Linked DNA regions of Homo sapiens: region 2 is linked to region 1. Evidence: fine-mapped expression QTL. A gene starts in region 1. The other region holds a variant in brackets. All regions are shown on one strand. Distances are between the middles of the regions. Region 1 holds the start of LGALS1 (galectin 1). Region 2 has its middle 3.5 kb from the start of H1-0.

The links.
Region 2: its variant is fine-mapped to the expression of LGALS1 in whole blood (INTERVAL, PIP 0.94).

The regions. Positions count from the first base shown.
Region 1 is chr22:37,673,976-37,676,875 of GRCh38, reverse strand. LGALS1 (galectin 1) reads right to left here and starts at 1,240. Exons shown (of 4, transcript NM_002305.4): 1 at 1,165-1,240. The coding sequence starts at 1,173. RefSeq lists a silencer at 1,298-1,437.
Region 2 is chr22:37,800,281-37,803,180 of GRCh38, reverse strand. No RefSeq gene overlaps it. Among named protein-coding and RNA genes, the nearest start is that of H1-0, 3.5 kb to the left of the region's middle. RefSeq lists a silencer at 759-808 and a cis regulatory region at 1-1,107. The variant G/A (reference allele first, on the strand shown) is at 1,706.

The DNA.
Region 1 (2,900 bases):
TGACCAAGCCAAGGGGAAGCCTGGGGAAAGGATTGAGCTGTAATTTCCAGCCTCCGATTGTCTATGTGGTCCTGGGAAAGTCCCTATTCCCACCGGGGTTGGCTTCAGTCTGTAACGTGAAGGTTCTAGAAGACAGGCTCTAGAAGATTTTGCAGATTGGCTTGGGAATTTTGGACTCAAGAGTGACTTGGGAGATGGGGTGCTCTGTCCCATCGCAGATGGAGAGGATCAGGCTGGGGAGGGGCCGACACTTGGCCCACCGTCACACTGAATGGAGGGGCCGGCCCCTCTGCTGGAGAGGAAGTGGCTAGGGGCGGGCGACCCCACTATTCTCCTTCAAGCCCCTCTCTGCAAAGAGGCCCAGGGGCTAGAGAGGAGACCCTGAAAAACACGGCCTCTCTGCATTAGGGAGAATAGCCCTGCAGTCGGGCTGTGGCTGGGCTGGCTCAGGGTTAACAAGATTGAGCAAACTGCTGGGCACTGCTGTTCCCTGGCACCCCGAGTGGGTGGGCAAGAGTTAACTGGTTTGAGTGGTTTCTTCTGCCAGAAACTTGAACCCTTTCCCTGGGGCCCGAGGAAGATTCTCACCTCCCTGCCACCCCAACCTCCCAGCTTGGGGGTGGTGGAAGGGAATTTCCCCCGCCCCCCCCGCCACCAGCCTGGACACAACCACCCTCCACCCCCGACCTAGAAGGGCCCATCCTGGGCAGCTTGTCTCGGGTCCTGGCAACTTTTCAGCGTTCTCTGGAGCAGAGGGTAACTCTGCCCTGGCCTGGTGACCGGGACAGCTGCAGGGGGGAGGGGACAGGAGGCTCTTTGGGGTGGAGGAGGGGGAAAGGGATAGTGGCCTGGGTGTCCCCCAGTTGGCCACACCCTTCCCACGCTCACTTCTCAGAGAGCTGCAGAATGTCAACCCTGGGCAGAAATAACTGTGCTTTCAGACCCTGGAGGAATCCAGACAATTATCAATGCAGAGAAGGCCTTGAGGGACCATGGCGCCCACCCCCATTTTACAGATGTGGCCACTGAGGTCCAGAAAAGAGAAGGCACTGGTTCCAGGCCACACAGCTGGGGCTAGAATCTGCTCCCGATCTGCCCAGCTCTCCTCTGGCCATCAGTTCCTGCCCTATCCCCTGGACCTTGGGGGGGGGTCCCCACACTCACACAAGCCATGATTGAGTCCAGGAGGATGTTCCCGGGCAGGCGCACCAGCTGTCAGAAGACTCCACCCGAGAGAGATGGGCCCCCGGACGCTCCCACCCTTTTAACTGGACCGGACCGGGTGAGCCCCGCCCCCTGAAAGTTCAGCCAATTGCAAGTCAGGATAGGGCTGGGGGCCACTGGGGGCGGAGTCCGTGGAATTTTGAAGCCAGTTTTGGAGCAGAGGTGACCAATCAGAGTGGCGAGCTGCTGCCCCCCCTCACCCCGCCGCCCCCGGCCAGAGTCCAAGCTCCACCTCCTATTCTCCTTCATCCCTCTCCACCTCCCCACCAAAATTGTGCTGTGGCAGAGATTGGGGGAAGCCAGTGGAAAATAGTTTGATGATGAGCTAGGCCCACAAGTTGGCGGGAAGGGGCCTGTGGCCAGCAGGCTGGGCTCAGGGGGTGCCCAGAGAAGATGGCTGAGGAGGTGCAGGGTCCTTCAGGGAATCAGAGCTGGGGGAGACCAGGCCACTCCCGGGCAGGGACCAGGGCGTGGCTCCTGCTGCGTGCGCGTCTGCAGAGGGCCACTGACTTAACCACAGGCCCTGGCCCCACCCGGGCCTTCCCCGGAAGCAAGGACTGCGGCTGCTGCAGCGCTCTCTCGCTGGCTCCTCGGGAAGGCTAAAGAAAGGCTGGGCCGGGCGCCAAGCCTGAGGCTGCAGGGCTTGGCTAAGGCCTCGGGCTTGGCCGCGTTCAGGGGCAGGCAGGGGATAGTCAAAGCGCCCTGGCCTGACAGCCTCAGGCCTGAGAGTGTCAAGCTTAGGAGATGGCCCAGGGTGGTCCAGACCAGGAGGGGGTGGGGTCCTGGCTCTGTGCACCCTGTCCTTTCTCTTTTTTATTTTTATTTATTTATATATTTATTTTTGAGATGGAGTCTCGCTCTGTCGCCCAGGCTGGAGTGCAGTGGCGTGATCTCAGCTCACTGCAACCTCTGCCTCCCAGGTTCAACTGATTCTCCTGCCTCAGCCTCCCGAGTAGCTGGGACTACAGGCCCCCACCACCACACCCGGCTAATTTATGTACTTTTAGTAGAGACGGGGTTTCACCACGTTGGCCAGGCTGGTCTCAAACTCCTGACCTCAGTTGATCCACCCGCCTCAGCCTCCCAAAGTAATGGGATTACAGGTGTGAGCCACCATGCCTGGCCACCCTGTCTGCTCTCTTAACATCTCCTCTGAGGCCCGGCACAGCCCTCCCTTCCCTGAGTGTTCAGCAGGTATTTTACTGAGCACCTACTATGTACCTGGCCCTGGGCTCTGAGGATTCAAAGCTGAACCCCTCCCAGTCCCCACTCTCAAGGAGCGCATAGTTGGGGTGGAATCTGACCACAACCACGTTAAGAAGTAGATGATGGGCTGGGCGCAGTGGCTCACGCCGGTAATCCCAGCTCTTTAGGAAGCCGAGGCGGGCGGATCACCTAAGGTTAGGAGTTCGAGACTAGCCTGACCAACACGGAGAAACCCCATCTCTACTAAAAATACAAAATTAGCTGGGCATGGTGGCATATGCCTGTAATCCCTGCTACTCCTGAGGCTGAGGCAGGAGAATCGCTTGAACCCAGGAGGCAGAGGTTGCAGTGATCCGAGATCAGTCTATTGCACTCCAGCCTGGGCAATAAGAGTGAAACTCAGTCTCAATTAAAAAAAATAAAAAATAAAAATAAAAATAAAAAGAAGTAGATGATGATGGCTGTAAGGG
Region 2 (2,900 bases), 130 kb before region 1:
CAGAACCATGTCACCCCATCCCCCGCCCCAGATCCGTGCATGTCTTAAAGACTGGATGAATCCAATGACACGACGATCAATAATTTTATTTGCACAGCGCTTTACAGTTTGCACAGTGCTCCCCACCGGTTTCTGGATCCTTTGCGCCTCCTGCCTTTGATCACTATCCCCATCACCCCTATTTTACCGCGGAGGCCCGGGACTTAGAAGGATGGATTGGGGGCGGGGTACTGTAAGGCTCAGCTCCCTGACACCTGGGCGTTCATTTCATTTTGTATCTCTCCTGTCCCTTCTCCCCGCCCATCCCAGCGACCTGTAAATTCCCGGAACTGAAGCCAGAATTGGGGAAAGGGGTTGCCTCGGGTTGCAGGGGCTTCCAGCTAGTGGACACCCCTTCTCCCGCCAGGCGGCGAGGTTCACCGCCCCTTCCCCTGTTCCGGGGAGTTGGAGGGGAAGGGAGGGGGTTCCCTGGGGCTTGGGCGCAGAGGCCGAAGCCGAGGCGGGCAAGACGAGGAAAGACGGCCTCCAATTGGCTTGGCCTCGCCTCGCCTCGCCTCGCCTCGCCTCCCCTCAGGGACACTGCAGAGCTGGGGGGCTTCTTCACTGCAGCCGGACCCCGCCTGGGCACCCAGGCAGGCGGCTCTCGGGTCCCCACCGGGCGCAGAGCCATCTTCCAGCTGGCGGACTGCGCAACCTCCCCCGCCCCCTTTAACGCGAGGCTCTTGAAACCCCAGGAACGGCGGAACCGCGGCAACTGCTCCTGGGAAATGTAGTCCCCGGCGCCGCGCCCCCTGCCCGCGACCCTCGGCAGCCGTCGCGCCCCCCGGGCGTGAGGAGGGGGTCGGACAGCTGCTGTGCCGTGGCGCGGGGAGGGTCCCCCGCTGTCTCTCTCGGGCCTCAGTTCTTCCACCTGTCGGCTCTACCTGTCTCTGGGGTTAGTGAGAGGGGGAAATGAATTCCTTCATGGAAAAGTATAAATCGCATTAGAATGCCAGGGGTCGTGTCCTTACTAATGGGTGTGTTTGTGCGTGCGCGCGCGTGTGCCTGAGCCCTTGGCACGTGACACCTCCACGTTACAGACAGGAGGCTCCCACCCCCACCCCTATGTTTAATGACTTGCCCAGGGATGATAGACTCTCAAGGCAATGCCCTGTTCACTGCACCACCTGTGGTCTTGTGGCATTCTGGGCTTTGTAATCTTTTTTTTTTTTTTTTTTTTTTTTTGAGATGGCGTCTTGCTCTGTCGCCCAGGCCAGAGTGCAGTGGCGCGATCTCGGCTCACTGCAACCTCTGCCTCCCGGGTTCAAGCAATTCTCTGCCTCAGCCTCCCGAATAGATAGGATTACAGGTGTCCACAACCACGCCCAACTAATTTTTTGTATTTTTAGTAGAGACGGGGTTTCACCATCTTGGCCGGACTGGTCTTGAACTCCTATCCTCGTGATCCACTCGCCTCGGCCTCCCAAAGTGCTGGGATTACAGGCATGAGCCACCGCTCCTGGCTGGTTTTGGAATCCTAATGCATTCCTTAATATGTGCCAGGCACTGGGATGGGCTCTGTGATATGGCCATAAACCAAAGTGACAAGAGAGCCCTGCCCTTGTGGAGCTGAGGTTCCCTGGAAAAGATAGATACACAATAGACTACATAAAGAAGTAAATTAGGCCAGGTGCGGTGGCTCACGCCTGTAATCCCGGCACTTTGG[G/A]AGGCCGAAGTGGGTGGATCACCTGAGGTCAGGAGTTTGCGACCAGCCTGGCCAACATGGTGAAACCCTGTCTTTACTGAAAATACAAAAATTAGCCGGGCGTGGTGGGGGGCCCCTGTAATCCTAGCTACTTGGGAGAATGAGGCAGGAGAATCGTTTGAACTAGGGAGGCGGAGGTTGCAATGAGCTGAGACCACGCCATTGCACTCCAGCCTGGGCGACAAGAACAAAACTCCATCTCAAAAAAAAAAAAAAAAGTAAATTATATAGTATGCTGGAAAGTGGCAATTGCAAAGAAACAACTGGAGCAGGGTTGGGGGTGGATATAGGCAGTGTCAAATGGTGGTGGTTTGCAATTGTATTTTTTGTTGTTCGTTGTTGTTTTTTGAGACGGAGTCTCACTCTGTTGCCCAGGCTGGAGTGCAGTGCCGTGATCTCAGTTTGCTGCAATCTCCGCCTCCTGGATTCAAGCGGTTCTCCTGCCTCAGCCTCCTGAGTAGCTGGGGTTACAGGTGTGCGCCACCACGCCCGGCTAACTTTTTTTTTTTTTTTTGAGATGGAGTCTCACTCTGTCACCCAGGCTGGAGTGCAGTGCCGCGATCTCGGTTCACTGCAACCTCTGCCTCCTGGGTTCAGGCAATTCTCATGCCTCAGCCTCCCGAGTAGCTGGGATTAGAGGCTCCCACCACCACGCCCAGCTAATTTTTGTATTTTTAGTGGAACGGGGTTTCACTATGTTGGCCAGGCTGGTCTCAAACTCCTGACCTCAAGTGATCCACCCACCTCAGCCTCCCAAAGTGCTGGGATTACAGGCATGAGCCACCACGCCTGGCCCCTTGTTCTACTTTTTGCTCCCTTCTCACTACTGAACTTGACTAGTCTAAAAAAAAAATGGTTCAGATGAATCCCACTACTCGGTATATATCCAAAAGGAAGGAGATCAGCATATTGAAGAGATATCTGCACTCCCATGGTAATTGCAGCACCATTCACAATAGCCAAAATATGGAGTCAACCCAAGCGCACATCAATGGATGAATGGATGAAGAAAATGTGGTATATAAACAAAGGGAATATTATTCAGCCACCAATAAGAAGGAAATCCTGTCATTTGCAACAACACAGATGGAACTGAAGGTCATCATATTAACTGAAATAAGCCAGGCAGAGAAAGACAAATATTGCATGTTTTCAC